Regions from separate parts of the Homo sapiens genome. Here regions 2, 3 and 4 are each linked to region 1. Evidence: fine-mapped expression QTL. A gene starts in region 1. Each other region holds a variant in brackets. All regions are shown on one strand. Distances are between the middles of the regions.

Evidence for each region.
Region 2: its variant is fine-mapped to the expression of STIM2 in whole blood (TOPMed, PIP above 0.99).
Region 3: its variant is fine-mapped to the expression of STIM2 in whole blood (INTERVAL, PIP above 0.99).
Region 4: its variant is fine-mapped to the expression of STIM2 in whole blood (TOPMed, PIP above 0.99). The same link has a PIP of 0.9 or more in monocytes.

Annotation. Positions count from the first base shown.
Region 1 is chr4:26,858,927-26,863,011 of GRCh38, reverse strand. STIM2 (stromal interaction molecule 2) reads right to left here and starts at 2,171. Exons shown (of 12, transcript NM_020860.4): 1 at 1,643-2,171. The coding sequence starts at 1,793. STIM2-AS1 (STIM2 antisense RNA 1) reads left to right here and starts at 2,413. Exons shown (of 2, transcript NR_134674.1): 1 at 2,413-2,502; 2 at 2,984-3,388. RefSeq lists silencers at 1,475-2,044, 2,055-2,424 and an enhancer at 2,515-2,614.
Region 2 is chr4:26,929,085-26,933,084 of GRCh38, reverse strand. The region is part of intron 2 of STIM2 (stromal interaction molecule 2); the gene reads right to left. Among named protein-coding and RNA genes, the nearest start is that of STIM2, 70 kb to the right of the region's middle. The variant A/T (reference allele first, on the strand shown) is at 2,295.
Region 3 is chr4:26,888,790-26,892,789 of GRCh38, reverse strand. The region is part of intron 1 of STIM2 (stromal interaction molecule 2); the gene reads right to left. Among named protein-coding and RNA genes, the nearest start is that of STIM2, 30 kb to the right of the region's middle. The variant A/C (reference allele first, on the strand shown) is at 2,148.
Region 4 is chr4:26,819,956-26,825,084 of GRCh38, reverse strand. It overlaps a transcript of TBC1D19 not described here. Among named protein-coding and RNA genes, the nearest start is that of STIM2-AS1, 38 kb to the left of the region's middle. The variant T/A (reference allele first, on the strand shown) is at 2,334.

The DNA of each region.
Region 1 (4,085 bases):
CTTTTTCACAGAGCATTAGCCAATTATGTATTAACCACATTTTTCTGCTCGAGAAACCTAGAACCACTTATACCTTCTAGAAGCCTAAATATTCCTGCTCCTTCCCTTCCTGCATGAGGCATTAAATCTTCAAATTATAGTCTTATTTATCAACTTTCCTAATAATCACTATTCTTCACTATACTGTTACTTGCCACATTTTTATTTGGAGAATAAATACTATTCAAGCATAAAGCTGTCTGACCTATCTTCTCACTCAAACTGTACTATGCTCCTAATACTGATTATTCTATAATCACTTTATCCCAGTTACCCAATTGGTAGGTTTGATGTATCAAGTTCCATTTAATAGGGCTTGATATGCTTCAGGGTAAAGTTAAACATGCTGACCATTATGTTCTATACTCTACATCCTCCAAAGCTTTTAAAGTTTACCAACATCCTTCTTCTCTCTAGAATAGTAAATATCCTATCATAGAAATCAGAGAAACTGCTTGGCTTTAAAGAATACAGTTCCTGAGCACTTGTCAGAGAAGCTGTTAGTAACTTCCAGACGCCCGCAGGACTATCATTTTGGTTAAATTAATCACGGGTCATCTTCTGCCACTTTAAACTTTTTAGTCTTACAATTATTGTAGGAAATCTACAGATCTACTTTAAAAATAAGTGAAATACTAAAAAAAAAAAAAAAAACCATTATTTTAGCTCCATTACTTTTCCCAAAGAAATCATTTCAGGGTCCTTATATAATAACTTTTACTTAAACCACAACTGATCAGTTGTACATAACACCGGAAGGCTTTAAAAAGGATACAATTCTGCACTTAACCTTACAAAACACGTTTCCAAGTTTTCAATTATGAGATCGTTCTATATATTAAAAAAAAGGTGCTAGTGCAGTCTATCAGAACTGTGCTGCCAGCTGCAAGCCCCGAGTATGCTGCACTTTGCAAATTTTAGGTATAATTTCTGGTTACCTGCTGAGGTTTCTACACCCTTTGTCACCCAGTGATGCTCCCACCACCAAACACTTTCCATCACCACTTAAAACGGCCTCCTTCCACCCCGCAAAAAATGCACTGTAAACTTAGGCATTTCTGCATACTAACACGGAACCACTAATATCACTAGGTATTATGGCTCTCAAAGAATCCCCTTTAGCAGGCTCCCCTGGGACGCTGTGCTCAAGCGGAGCTTTGAACCGGTGAGACTCGCTGCCAGCTGCCTTTGCAAAAGCAGCACCAGAGGTAGACTCAATACCGCAATGCTGCTGCTGACTTTTTCTAGCAGCCTCAAAAAAAAAAAAAAAAAAAAAATCAGCCCAGTCCCCTGCAGACCCTGCTGGCACTTCTGCAGCACGAAAGAGAAACCACCGCATTGCTCAGCTTGGAAGATCGGAGAGCCCGACTGAAGGGAGGGGAATCAGTGCCGTCGAGAGGCTCGGCGAGGGCGGGGTGTCGGGGTGAAAAGGAAAGACGTCCGGAGTGCAGGGGACCGCGACGAAGCAGCAGGCAGGGCTCCGCATCGCGCCCTGGCCGGAGCCGCGGAATAGCGGACGTCCGGCGGAGATGCTGACCTCTGCACGGGTTGGGGGTCCCATCGCTGCCGGCCGAGCCCCGCCCGCCGCCCCCCGGCCCCTCACCTGTCATGAGCGCCGGGCTATCGCCGGCCGCCGCGGCGGGAGAGGAGGCGGCAGTTGCGGCAGAGCCAGTCGCCCGCCGCCCGCGGAGGTGCCGGGGCACAAGCTCGCATCCGTCCGCCGCTCCGGCTACCAGCAGCCCGAGCACCAGCAACGCAGCCCAGCGCCGCCGCCGCAGCAGCCAGCCCCACGCTGGGCCAGGAGTCGAGGCGGGATGAAGGCGCCGAGGAGAAGCCGGGTGAAAGCGCAGCGGCGCCCCGGCCGCCTGCAGCTCGCCGGCTCCGCGAGGCGCCACCACCGCCGCCGGCGACTCCTCCGGCCGCCCCCGCCGCCTCAGACACGGGCTCCCGCCGGGCGCCAGCCTGGTCCCATCGGCACCGGCGGCCTCCGGAGCTCTGATCCCGGCTGCGTTCATTGGTTCCGGTTATTTAAAAAAAAAAAAAAAAAAGGTGGGGGGTAGAAAGGTACGGCGTCTTCAGGCGGTGCACGACACCCGCGCTGCTGCTGCGGCGAGACCGGGATCCGCTGCTCTGGCGCCGCCAAACACCAACCCCAGCTCCCGCGCCGCCGCCGCCGCGGCGCATCCCCCCGCCCCCTCCGGCCCGCGCTGGTCGTAGTACCACGCTCCGCCGGGACGCCTCCCTCCCCTCGCACATTCGCTCGCATACCAATCCCCCGCCTCCCTCAGGCTCTCCACGGCGCAGGCGCGGCGCTGCTGTACTGCGCGTGCGCGGCATCCCAGCCCCGCCCCGGAGGCGTTCCTAGACGGACGGTAGTACCGTGGGGCGGCTGATAACGCTTTAGCGAGCCGCGAAGATAGGAGGCGGGGAAGAAGGGGGACGTGTACCTCTCCCTCATTCACGGTACCACCGCGAGGGGGAGTGGGGGGCTACAAGGGGACGGAGAGAAGAGTCCAGACGTCCCACATCCTGAGGGCGAGTTTCAGCCTCGTAGAGGGCAGCGAAAGTAATTGCATGGATCAGGAAAATCTTGCAATCGGAAAACAGCAGCGTCCCCGTAATTTCAATATAGGTGGGGCTTACAAGTGGCTGGCTGTTTAGACGCGGTTAGCATAGCTTAGCGTTTTATTTACTTGCCAAACATTTCACAAAGCGCGTGCTATGTGTGAGTGTACCAGGCATTGCTCTAACCGTTTTACACATTTACATGCTATAACTCCAAAATTATCGTTACCCCCTTTTACGAATGAAGAGACTAAGACCTAGAAATGTGAAGTAAGTTGTCCCCAATATCCCACAGCTAATTCATGGGAAATGAGCGAGATTTAGCAGCCACTGAAAAGGCCTATTTAAGAGAATTTACTTTAGCCTCTGACTCTCCTAGGTACATTTACCTGAACTCATCACCTTCCCACCCCCATCCCATCGACTCTGTGCTGTATCCTGAACCGGCTGACAGAACAATGATGTAGACTTGACTTGTTTTCGCCAACCTGGAATGAAGCAAAGCTCTTGTGCACCCAAGATCTGCTCTCTGTTGTAAATCCTGTTCAGACCTGGTCTAATTGGTTTGAATAAATAAAGAACCGGAATCTTTCTCATCCAAACTAGTTGCCAGCATATTTTTAAGGCCACCTCCCTTCAAATTTAAAAGGAAGTGTTGAATGTACTGTCACTATAAATTAAAAGCCCTGGAAATTCACACGCAAGGAGGCATTCTTTCTCCCAGGGGCACAAAATTGTTTAAAATTTGCAGATAGGGTTATTAAACACGAAGATCCTTTTGCTATTGGGTTTTGTTGGTTTCATTCTGCTTATTGGTTTGTTTGCTTGCTTTCTCAAGCCAAGAAGATACTCAAATTACATTCTCCTAAAGTATTTCTTAGGTAGCCTGGCCAAGATAACCACAAATATCGTTTATTGTGGAAGGGCAGATGCACACTTTAGAAAAGAATCAAGGATGTCTTTGAGGCTAAGTCAATCTATCAACAGTTATTTCTCAGCAGACTTCTTGTGGGCATAGTGTTCAGGTGGCAATTCTTTATAGGGCAACCGGGAGATTATATTTCCCCTGCTGAAAGGCACAGCGATGAAGTCACACCAGAGTGCTGAGTGCCCACCAGAGAAGATAATTCTGCTAGGGGACCAGAACAATATAAATAACAAGCTTGTTCCTGCTCTCCAGGAGGCATTTCATTTATTAAATGTTTACTGAGTACCTAGTATGTGCCAGGCAGAGTACTGAGTGGTGAGGGTTAGGCAAGAGAGACACTTGAAAAAGGCAATTAAGTCAGCAGTCAGGGCTATGAGATAAACAGCACAGTCCCATGACTAAGGCATCTTACAATCTTTTTAAGGAGATAAAATGTACACCCATTAAACAATTAGAGGCTAATACAAAGTAGTAATCAGTTGCTAAATGGTGTAGTGCAAACTGTTACAGTAGTAACAGTATAAAACCACGAACAAATTAACAAATCACAGGG
Region 2 (4,000 bases), 70 kb before region 1:
TTCACTCTCCCACAAGCTCTTTTATGTTTTCCACTGTTGCCTTACTTTCTTGATATCCACAGATCATACCAGCATTAATCTGCTGCTTTCTCATGTCTTTTCTCACTTCTAGTCTCTCATGTACACATTGATTCTTTATTACTTCTCAGTTCTTTCAGGACAAGTCGTTATGTGTTTTTTCCATGAAATGACCAGATGCCTTTGTTTATCTTTGCAAAGCCAACATCTAGCACACTGTCTGGCAGACAATAGGTGCTCAATAAAAGACTGCTGAACCGAAGTTAGTTTCTTCAGCTCTTAATTATTTTTCTGTTGTTGACAAGTACTAAGCAGTTGCTGCTGCTGCTTAGCTCCAGAGAGTGCTCCTAACCCATGATCACCATGGGCTCTCCATGGTCACTTACAGGCCCAGGCCATTCCAAAAGTTTGATTTTCCAATATTCATTCGTTAAACAAACATTTATTAGATGCTTATTAAGTACTATTTAGACATTTATAGCCAAGATATACTACCATGAAAAATTTAATAAATGCAAAACAAAAGCATCAAATTTAGCAAACGATGTTCAATTTATCAATTGCTAAAATGACTTTATCTTTGATCAGATGCTACAGTAAGTTTAGTGTCAGTACTAACGAGTTATGTTAAAGTCACTGAAAAATCTGTGTGGTGTTATTTTGGTAGCAATTATCAATTTTCAGGAAAAAAAACTCAAACAAAAACCGACTGACCACTTACATTATGCCAAACTTAAGAGACAGTTTGTATTACAAAAGTTCCTTGTCAAACAGACGTTAAGATTCACCATCCTTTGAAGATTAATAATCTACATTAACACAGAGAAACAAGAAACACTAGAAGTCAAGAACATGGGTTCTGGAGTTGGCCTGGCTTCAAAACCTCAACTCTATCATTTACAAGCTTGTAACTATGGGCATATTGCCTAATCCACCAAACTGTTTCCTCATCTGCATATAAGATAATAAGAGTAGATTCTTAGCTAATACAGTTGTTATAAGGAGTCCATACCATAGTACATACAAAAGTGCTTATACGATGGAACAAATAGTAAATGCTCAATAAATGTTATCTTAGTATATAAATCTATAAATTTAAGTTTAAGAAGTCCTACAAAACTAATCCAGCATTTCCCAATTTTGACCACGTAATCCATTTTCCCATAAAACACTTACTAACATTCTCTGCTACTTTAATTGTGTGCTGATTGCCATTATTTTCCAGAAAGAATTAAAGTCTCTATTTTTATGGTATCGTTATATTAACTAAACAAATCATGAAATTATGAAAATTTCAGTATATAGGAAAGTACCTCAGTAACTGTAAGTTAATAGACAGCAAGACTTCTCTAGCACCTATGCCCTTCCCTTCCCTTTGCCCTGCTTGTTCTTTCAGAAGAATGTCAAGTGATCCTTCAGTCAAACAAATTACACTGGTACATTTGTGCATGTAATTAGAGTCACCATTCACTGCAAAGCTCTACTCAATAGATAACTTTTAATCAGGCTTTAAAATTCTACACATATCCTATTACAAAGATGAACACAATGGGTTTTATTGTGGGACATTTCCAAAACAAAGCCTTTTAAAGGAAATTTTATAACTTTACTGCTTTTATACTCTATATTTCTATGGCTTGAGAATCTCCCATCAAATATTTCTAGTTAGTAAATTATCAAAATAAACTGTGGTAAGCAGTCTCTGAAATGGCTCCCAATGATACCCACATCCTTGTATTTGTCTCCCCGTGATGGTTGGCTGGACCTAGTAACTCACTTCCCATGAGTAGAATACAGCAAAAGTGATGGGACGTCACTTCCAGCATTAGTCACAAAAAGATTATGACGTCCACATTACTGCCCCTTCTCTTTCTCTCAGAGCTCCCTCTCACTCTGAGAGAGTGAAACAGTGGGCTGAGGGAACCCCATTGTCATGTTATAAACTGCCTACAGAGAGACTTATACGGCAGAAAACTGGTATCTCCAACAGCCATTGAGGACCTCTGAGACTAACAGCTATATGAGTAGGTTTTTAAGTGGATCCTCCCCTAATCAGGCCTTGAGATGACACAACCCCAGCTGATATCTTAATTGCAGCCCTGTGAAAGACCCAGAGCCAGAAGACCCACCTAAGCTGCACTAAGATTTCTGACCCACAGAAACCATGAAATGAGAAATGTGTGTTGCTTTAAGCCACTAAGTTTTGGGGTCATTTGTTACATAGCAATAAACTAACACATAAGTTAAAAGTTAACCTTAGAAAACTTCAGCAAAAA[A/T]TATATGTATTTAATCTTTTGGACACAATACCCCACATAATTCAAAACACACTGTTCAATTTTAAAATGCATTGCCTTCTTTTTTGTCTAATCCTAATTTTGCCTATTTTCTTAAGTGACTCTCCACAGACACATCTGTGTTGTTAACTAAGCTTTCCAACAGGTATAAAAATCATGGCAAAGAATGTATTGTGAAGGCAGCATATGTAACATAAGGAATACTGAAATACTAGGTACAATGGACTTTTCAGATAAGTAGGTCTTAAAGTTGATTTTGTTTTATATATGTATATCAAACAAACTGATAAAAAAAAACCTCTAAAACTACCTATTCCAGGTGGTAAAATGAAAAAGAATAAATAAAAACAAAGAAAAACTAGAACAAGGAAAGGAATGAAAAAAATGTTCATTCAAAGAAAAAGAGGGAAAGGTAAGAACAGAAAACAAAATTCATATACACTAGAATCTATGATAAAACTTTTCAGTCACAAAATGAGCAATAACAATGTGAACTCCACTGCTGTGCTCAGGGCAACAAAACCATTAATTTCTCTTATTTAAATTATTTGTTGACCAAATACCTACACTTTCCAAAATTTCACTAAAATTGACAGACCGTGCAGCCTTGAATGCAATCAACAATTCAATCTTAACAGATCACAGATTCTGCACACATTGACATCTAACCTTTTTTATGTTGGTCCAGAAGATGATGACCTAGACAGCAAAAGCTTTATATCCTATTCCTGATCTGAAGCACCCAAAGTACTCCAAATTCAGTTTTAACATAGCCCTGGAAAGTTATCAGACATTTATTCTCTTATTTGTCCAAGTACTGTACACATGATACACTTTAAGTGTTACCCTCACTTTGCCTGCCACCCTATAGAACATTACAGCCCCCATCATCTCTAACTGATAATGATCCCCCTGCCCCTGCTTACTTATTTTGTTTAGTCTCCTTCCCACAAGCCCTACCTGAATGTTCACTTAAAGGCACAGATTTTGTCTATCTTGTTCCTAATCTATTCCAAGCAACTATTTGAGTATCTGGTATAAAATAGGCCATCAGATATTAGCTCAATATTAAATAAATTATAAAAATAAAGAATTTTTCATATGACCAAATACAAAACAGAGGATACTAAAGAGAAAAAAAAATAAGTTTTTAAACAGAATTTTCAAATGCTAAATACTTTTCTGAATTTTTTTTAGAAAAGCAACATTTCAAAACAAAACAAAAATCACAAGAAATTAAGTACTTTAAAATTTGGGCTAAAATCACAAGAAATTAAGTACTTTAAAATTTGGGCTAAGGTTTCCTATCAAACGTATAAAGTCTCCTAGTGAAGGCCAGTAAAGGTCCATAAAATAATTATTGCTTATTTCTTTCAAAAAGACACCTTAACAAGAAATACAAACCAAAATGCACCTATATTGAACTGAAGGACTATAGTACAAGAACTGCAGAATTAATAATTCATCCTTTAAAGCATACAAACACATCACACAGAGCCTAGATCAGTGCTAATAGAAATAAAATGTGAGCTACATACATAATTTTGTTTTCTAGAAGTTACACTGAGTAAAAACAAAGGAAGTAAATTTTAATATTATATTTCATGTAACCCAATATGTCTAAAATATCTCCAACAGGTAATCAATATTTTCAAATTAGATATTTAATATTATTCTTCTCATATAAG
Region 3 (4,000 bases), 30 kb before region 1:
TACACTTTCACTCTTACCTCAGGGTTATATCAACTTTCCAGCCCTACGTCATAATTTAATCCAGAGACCTTGATCAACTTTCCCTTCCACAAGACACCACAACAACCCATTATATTCATGACCTTATGCTAATTGGACCTAGTGAGCAAGAAACTGCAATTACTCTAAGCTTATTGGTAAAACATATGCATGTCAGAAGGTAAGAAATGAGTAAGACAAAAATCCAGGGGTGTCATGGACTGAATATATGCGTCCCCCCCCAAAAAAATTCATATGTTAAAATCCTAACTCCCAAAGTAATAATAGGAATTGAGACCTTTGGGAGGTCTGTCAGTCATGAGGGTGGCGCCGTCTTGAATAGGATTAGTGCTCTTATGAAACAGGAGCTCACTCGCTCTCTCTGCTGTCCACCACATGAAGATACAAAAAGATGGCCGCAAAACAGAAGAGTGCCCTCACTAGACACTGGATCTGCCAGCACCTTGATCTTGGATTTCTCAGCCTCCAGAGCTGTGAGAAATAAATGTTTGATGTTTAAGCCACGCAGTCTTTGGTAATTTCTTAAAGCCTGATGTATTCGTTCATTTTCACGCTGCTGATAAAGATATACCCAAGACTGGGCAATTTACAAAAGAAAGAGGTTTACTGGACTTACAGTTCTGCATGGCTGGGGAGGCCTCACAATTATGGCAGAAGGTAAGGAGGAGCAAGTCACATCTTACACAGATAGCGGCAGACAGAGCTTGTGCAGAGAAACTCCCATTTTAAAACCATCAGATCTCACAAGACCCATTCACTATCATGAGAACAGCATGGGAAAGACCCACACCCAAGATTCAATCATCTCCCACTGGGTCCCTCGCACAACACATAGGAATTATGGGAGCCGCAAGATGAGACTTGGGTAGAGACACAGAGCCAACCCACATCACCTGAACAGACAAGGAGCCTTCCACCTCGGTGAAATTTCTAAGGGTCTAGTGATGTGGTACATGTTGACATATCCCTTCTAATGTGAAGTAAAAGTTGTTTTAGCTAGTCCCTCCTAAAATCAAGACAGACAGAATGTCTAGTAGGCCTCTTTGTATTTGGAAGGCAACATATTCCTTATTTGGGTGTGCTACTCTAGCCCATTTACTGAGTGTATCAGTCAGGGTTTTCTAGAAAAACAGAACCAATAACCAAAAGGGGGTGTGTGTGTGTGTGTGTGTGTGTGTGTGTGTGTGTGTGTATGTATGTATACACATATCTTTATATGTATATATACATGCACAAACACACATATATGTGTATAAATATAGAGATTTATTTTAAGGAACTAGTTCACAAGATTATACAGGCTGACAAGTCTGAAATCTGTAGTGCAGGCAAGAGTTTATGTTTTACTTGAGTCCAAATTCTGTCACAAGAGCAAGCTAGCAAGCTAGAAACTCAAGCAAAATGTCTAGGTTACAGTCTTAAGGCAGAAATACTTCTTTTTCAGGAAACCTCAGTTTCTGCTCCTAAGGCCTTCAACTGATTGGATAAGGCCCACTCATATCATCAAGGGCAATCTCTCAGCATAACTACTTACAGATACTAATCATATCTACAAATTACTTTCATGCAACATCTAGACTAGTGTTTGACCAAACAACTGGACACCACAGACCAGCCAAGTTGACACACACAAAAAATTATCCATCACACAAACTGAACTATAAAGCTATTAGTTCTGAATGTGGCCCAGAACAAGAAAAGGCTTTGCAACAGACTAGGCTGCCATTGTAAGCTGCTGTGCCACTTGGGACATGTGATCCAGTAGATCCAATAGTGCTTCAAGTTTCAGAGGCAGATAGAGCTTCTGTGTGAAGCCTCTACTGACAGGCTCATATAGGTTAATCAGAGTGAAGACCCTTAGGATCTTAGAGCAAAGCTCTGCCATCCTCTCTGGAAAAGTACTCTCCTTTTTTTTTTTTTTTTTTTTGAGACGGAGTCTCGCTCTGTCGCCCAGGCTGGAGTGCAGTGGCGGGATCTCGGCTCACTGCAAGCTCCGCCTCCCGGGTTCACGCCATTCTCCTGCCTCAGCCTCCCAAGTAGCTGGGACTACAGGCGCCCGCCACTACGCCCGGCTAATTTTTTGTATTTTTAGTAGAGACGGGGTTTCA[A/C]CGTTTTAGCTGGGATGGTCTCGATCTCCTGACCTCGTGATCCACCCGCCTCGGCCTCCCAAAGTGCTGGGATTACAGGCGTGAGCCACCGAGTACTCTCCTTTTGAGAAACAGATTTTGGCTTGCTACGGGGCCTTATTAGAGACTAAATGCTGAACAATGTGCCAAGGAGTTGCCATGAGACCTGAGCTGCCCATTATGAACTGGGTGCTATCTGGCCCCACGATTCATAAAGTGGGGCATGCATGGCAGTACTCCATCACTGAATGAAAATGGAATATGACAGATCAAGATCAAGCAGGCCCTGAAGGTTCAAGTAAGTTATATGAAGAAGTTGTACAAATGCCCACGGTCCCCATTCCTACCACATTCCCTTCTCTCTCCCAGCCCACACCTATGACCTCAGGGGAAGTTTCCTACTATCAGTTGACCGAAGAAAAAAAAGTGGGCCTAGTTTACAGATGACTGTGGACAATATGCACAAACCATCACAAAGCAGATGGCTGTAGCACTAACTGCCTTTCTGGGACAGGGATAGTAATGAAGGAAAACTCTCCTGTGGACAGAACTTTGGGCAGCACACTTGGCTCTCATTTTGCTTGGAAGAAGAAATGGCCAGAGGTGCCACCGTGTACACCAATTCATAGGATGTGGCCTACTGTTTAGCTAGATGGTCACAGAATTGGAAGGACATAATTGGGAAAATGGTAACAAGAGGATCTGGAGAAATAATGTAGATAGACCTCTTTGGGCAAAAAATGTGAAGGAATCTGTGTCCCACGTGAATGCTGACCAAAAGGTGACCTCAGCAGAGCAGGATTTTAATAATCAAGTAGATAGAATAACTCATTCTGCAGATCCCAGCCAGCTTTTTTCCCTAGCCACTTCTGTCATGAACGAAGAGGCCATAGGAAGGAGGAAGGTGGCTCAGCAACATGAACTTCTATGTACCAAGGCCGACCTGGCTACAGGTGCTAATGAGGCCCAATCTGCCAGTTACAGAAACCAATAATGAGTCCCTGATATGGCACCGTTCCCCAGAGTGATCAGCCAACTATCTCATGAAAGGCTGATTATATTGGACCACTGCCATCATGAATGGGGCACTGTTTTGTTCTTATTACAACAGATACTCTAGATATGGATTTCTCTTCCCTGCATGCAAGCATTCTGCCAAACCCACAGAATGCCTTATCCACCATCTAGGTGCTTCACACAGCATTGCTTCTGATCAAGGAACACACTTTACAGCACATGAAGTGTAACAGTGGACCCATACTAATAAAATTCACTGGTCTTACCATGTTCCTCATCATCCTGAAGCAGCTGGCTTAATAGAATGGTAGAATGGATTTTTGAAGACTCAGTTACGTTGTCAGCAAGGTGACAAAAACTTGTGCAATGTTTTCCATGAGGCTATGTATGCTCTAAATCAGCATCCAATGTATGGTGCTATTTCTCCCATGGCCAGGATTCATGGATCCCAGAATCCAGAGAGAGAAATAAGAGTGGGGCCACTCACTATTATCCCTATTGTTTCACTAGCGAAATTTTTGTTGCCTATTCTTTAACCTTATCCTCTGCTGGTCTAGAGGCCTTATTTCCAAAAAGAGGACTGTTTCCACTGGGAGATAGAATGATTCCACTGAACCGACATTAAGACTACCACCTGGCCACTTTGAACTCCTCATGCCTCAGAATGAACAGGCAAAGAAGACCCAGGGTTAGTGTACTGACCAGGGTTGCTGGTTACTAAGAAGAAATTCAACTGCTACCATACAATGGAGGTATGAAAGACTAAGTCCAGAATACGAGAGATCTTGTAATTACTTTCACGCTCTGTGATTAAAAGA
Region 4 (5,129 bases), 38 kb after region 1:
AAGAGGCAAATCAAGAAAATATCAATATAGATAGCCAACAAACATAAAAAGAAAACATTCGTCTAGTAATTGAGGTGACAGGAATATCCAGTGTGTGTGGAAGAGCTGCCTTGTTATAAATTTAAATAACCTTCTGCAGAGCAGTTTGGCAATGTATATCGTTAAACAGGCATGCTCTGTACCCAGCAATTGTACTTCTAGAAGTTTATTCTATACAAAGGAATGCATAAACATGTTTGCTTAAATGTTATGTGGAATACAAAATTGGAAAAAGTTTAATGAAGAACTTACTATGCATATGGCCATGTGAATTTATTCTAAGGAATGTCCAGAAATATGTGCAAAGATGTATCAACACAGATGTTCATAATACTAAGAAGTAAATGATAGCAAAAAAAAAAGAAAGAAAGAAAGAAAATGACCCCACTGTTAAAAAGAAGGAATTAACTAAATTGTAGTGCAGTAATATAATGTGGAAACTATGTTGTAGAAGTTCATAAATATGCATACGAAAAAGACCCAGAGGACATACACTCAGAAGCTGACGGTCATAATTTCAGAGTCATAGGACTACAAGTGAATTTTGCTTTATTTATTTTTGTTTGTTTGTTTTCTGGATTTTCTGCATTGAGCATTCATTAGTTTTATACTAGTAGAAAATAAGAATATTATGATAGAGAGAAATATATTACTGTGAAAAGATACTTCATATCTGTGTTAGTCAACATTTGAAACTGCAAATGACAGAAAATCCAGCTGCAGTTGTCTTAATAAGAACGAAGTTACTGCTTCACATGCTTCCGGCATGGCTGGATTCAGGCCTCACGCACTGTTGCTAGAACTTGGTCCTTCTCTTATCATCTCTTTATCTCTCGTCTTTGTTCTCTATTGCTGCATGTTCAGGAATGCTCTCCCCATGTGGTGGCAAACATGTCCACAAAGATGTTTAAATCTTCCCTCAGCAAATCCAGCCAATTGTCTTTTAAGTAAGAGTTAAAATAAATTCCTGGATCTTATTTATACTGGCCATCTTGGGATCATGCACCCATCCCTGATCCAATCAAATAGCCCTGTGAATGGAATGCCCTATTAGTTATGCCTGGGCCATGTGCCCATCACTGGAGCCAGCGGTCAGGCAGTCAGCCCGGGTGGCTCACTAAGAGTCAGTGGGGTTCTGTATAAAGAAGGAAGAGGGGAGGAATCCTGCAGAGGTAAAAACCATAACAAAGAAACAAAAATACACTGACGACAAGCTTTCAGTTTCTTTAGATGCTGCCTAAGGTCTGGCTAGAAAGAGTGTTAGCAACCTTAAATCACTTAGGACTCTTGTGGTTGCAAGTGACAGAAAACCTAGAACAAGCTTAAGCAGCAAAGATAATTTATTGGCTCACCTAGCTGAGAAGTCCAGAGGCAAGACTGGCTTCTAGTGGGTCAAAGCCACCCAGGATATGGCTCTTATCATCTCTCCACTGGTGACAGACCCATCTCCAGATTCCACACAAAGGCCCCCGCAACTCTGGGCTCTCTCCCCATGGTAGCAAATTGCTCTGGCAATTCCACACCCCACATCTTCACTTCACTCTAGGTGTGGTCTGGGAACAGAGAATCTCTTCTGTGTATCTTCCACAGAAACACTGTTATTGTCACCTCTCTCATTAACCCAAATTGTATCACAAACCCATCCCTGACCAATCAATGTGGCCTGAGGAATAGGTACATGGATGGGTTTGAGATATGTTTTGGCTGCATCCCCACCCAAATCTCAGCTTGAATGCCCACGTGTTGTGGGAGGGACCCGGTGGGAGGTAATTGAATCATGGGGGCAGGTCTTTCCCGCTGTTCTTGCAATAGTGAATAAGTTTCACGAGATCTGATGATTTTAAAAATGGGAGTTTTCCTGCACAAGCTCTCTCTGTTTGCCTGTTGCCATCCATGTAAGATGTGACTTGCTCCTCCTTGCCTTCTGCCATGATTGTGAGGCCTCCCCAGCCACGTGGAACTGTAAGTCCATTAAACCTCTTTCTTTGTAAATTGCCCAGTCTTGGGTATGTCTTTATTAGCAGCGTGGAAACAAACTAATACAGCTTGAGTCAAGTACAGTCTACTCCTGGGCAGGGTCAGTCTGGTCTGGACCACTATTGAGAGTGGAAGGGTAGAGTGATCCCAAGGAAAATCAAGGTGGGGAAGGGTGGGACTGGATCCCTGCTGGAGAGGTAACCAGCAAATGTCTATCATGTCTCTACAAGAGTCTGACATGTTTTAAACTCTATCTAGTCATTCATTTTAGAATGGGAAATATTTATTCAAACTATTTCCTGTTTGTGGCTTAGTGC[T/A]TCCCCGCTGTTGCAGATTGACTGTAGCTAATGTACTTGCCTAAATGAAGAAGTATACATTTATTACAGGTCTTCAACCGCATCTCAACGTTAACCATTTAAACGAGCCTGCTGTTATCAAGAGGGGTCGAAACAATCATAGCATTACGTAAAGGGCCCTACATAGTCCACTGGCAGCCTTTTTTCCTCTTGGGCTGTAATAACCCAAAAACAGGATTTTTCAAAAAAATATATATTTCCATGGAACTTTATTTAGGGAAACATATGGGGCTTGGAAATGTCAGCACACTGGGAAGAAAGCAGGAAGTAAAAAGGGTTTCGTGCTCCTGTCTCTCTTATTAATGAAGTGGGTTCAAAGTCGTGTTGGGTTAGCAAGAAAAACAAACAAAATGATTCAGGCCTGCTCTGGGTGACATCTGTCCACTAGGACAGTCACTCACATTTGGCTTGGAAAGCTTTTCAGTAGATGGCACAGGCCAGGAAGGAGATGTTTTCTTTTCATCTCCAGAAGGAAGTTTGCACAAATCCCTTCAGAGCCAGGCTTTTGTGTGATAAATAAATGTGTCTCTGCCAGAGAGAGTAACAAGAAAACCCCAGCGACTGACAGCTTAAGACAGGGGTAAAAAATCACCATGGCTAATGTCATCACAAATGAGGGACAGCTTTCAAGTTTCCGTGATTAGAAATGCTTTGCACAGGCAACAGCGGGGCTTGGCAGATGATGTGACTAAGTGATCTGTTTCCCCATGTGGCGACTGCTGCAGAACAATTCCCCATCTTGTCTTAGATGAGTCAACAGAATTCTGCCAAAGTGTCATAAAATGTCAAGGAAAACATTTCTGCCACCAGGGCTCAGGAGAGCATGCAGGTGGAAGTGGAGAGAGAAGGGCCGTGGAGAAAAGTGGTCCGCCTGGCCACCAGAGGTCTGCCACACATAAAGAACGGGTACCTGCTGACCTGTGTGTGATGAGCAGACAGGGACAGGGACTTCCAGCATGACCACGGTGAGCCCCGCCATGGCTTCTGACTCCCTGGCACAGTTACAGGACAGCCCCACCATTGAACCACTGGGCCAGGACCTGCATTCGCAGGCAAGTGCAGGGAGACCTTTCTCCAGTCTCTCATTCTTGCAGGACTATTTTATCTGCCTAATTTTCCAGGTCCAAGATCTAGGTCCTGTGAGATTTCAAGAGCCCAGAAACATGGCTAAATCCCAAAGGAAAATAATTACTGCCTCAAACACACAAGGAGTACTACAAAACCTGTTAAAATAAATACCTGTTTACATGAATGCCCACAAAGCACAGAATTACACTTATGTGATCAACTGTTGAATTATTTAGAAAAATTTCATTACATTTGAAAACAATGTTAATGGTAGATTTTGTTTTACTTCAAGTGTGCATGATGACTGCAGAGAATCAGAGCCAACTGAAAATTCAATGAGTTGTTCCTTGCCAAATGATTTCAAAGACAAAACTATGATACTCCTTTGAAAAAATCTCAGCCAAAATTCTGTTTCATGGGGAAGGGAGGAGCATTTAAATATCTTTGCTAAGATGTGGGGTGAGACCCTCAAAAGAAAGTGTGGCAAGGACACGAGAAGCTTTCATACAGTCTGGAACTGCTAACTGCTCTTCATGTGCATGCTTGATTGCAAACGTCCTTTCTTCCAGGCGCCATATTGGCACCCATGCATCCCTACACTAAATGCAGTGTAGGGGCCAGAGGGATACAGAAAGCTGAGTCGAGTGAATACCATTCATTTGGTAGCCAGTCAACAGATATTTTTATATGCCCACTGTATTCCAGGTGATGTTCTGGGCACTGAGAAGACAGCTGTGAAAACAAATCCCTGTACTGATGAAGCTTACAGTCTAATGGGGGTAAAGATGATCACCAAATGAGTTAAACATATAATATATTTTATGGAGTAGGTGCTATGGTGAAAAGTAAACAGAGAGAGGGAAATTAGTACCACCATTTTGGAAAGCAGCATGGAGGTTCCTCAAAAAAACTACATATAGAATTAGCATATGATCCAGCAATCCCACTTCTGTGCATATATCCAAAAGAATTGAAATTGGTATGTCAAAGAGATATCTGCACTACCACATTCATTTCAGCATGATTCACAAGAGCCTCAGTGCCCATCAATGGATAAATAGATTTTTAAAATGTGGTATTTATGTACAATGGAATACTATACAGCCTTTAAAAAGAAGGAAACTCTGCCATTCACAACAACATGATGGAACTGGAGGATGTTATGCTTGGTCGAAATAAGTCAGGCACAGAAAGGCTAATACTGTATGATCTCAACTTACATGTGGACTCTAGAAAAGTCAATCTCATAAAAATAGAGTAGAAAGATGCCAAAAGCTAGGGTCCAGGTTGGAGGATAGGGGTGGGCAGGTGGAGAAGGGAAGAGATGGGGAAGAAAAGATGTTGAACAAACAGTACAAAGTTTCAGACTGCAAGAATAAGTTTTAGTGATCTCTTGTACTGCATGGTAACCATAGTGAATAACAATGTATCACATATTTCATAATTGCTAAAAGCATAGATTTTTAATGTTCTCATCCTCCAAAAAGTAAGTTACTAAGATAACGGATATGTCAATTAGCTTGAATGAATCTTTCTACAATGTACACATAGATCAAAGCATCACATTGTACCCCACAATTATATGTAATTATTGTCCATTAAAAAGCAAAGCAGAGAGAAAAATGTTGAAGTTTGCAATTTTAGAGTAGGAATGGGAAGGCCTCACTGAGAAGGGGTTATTTGAGAAAA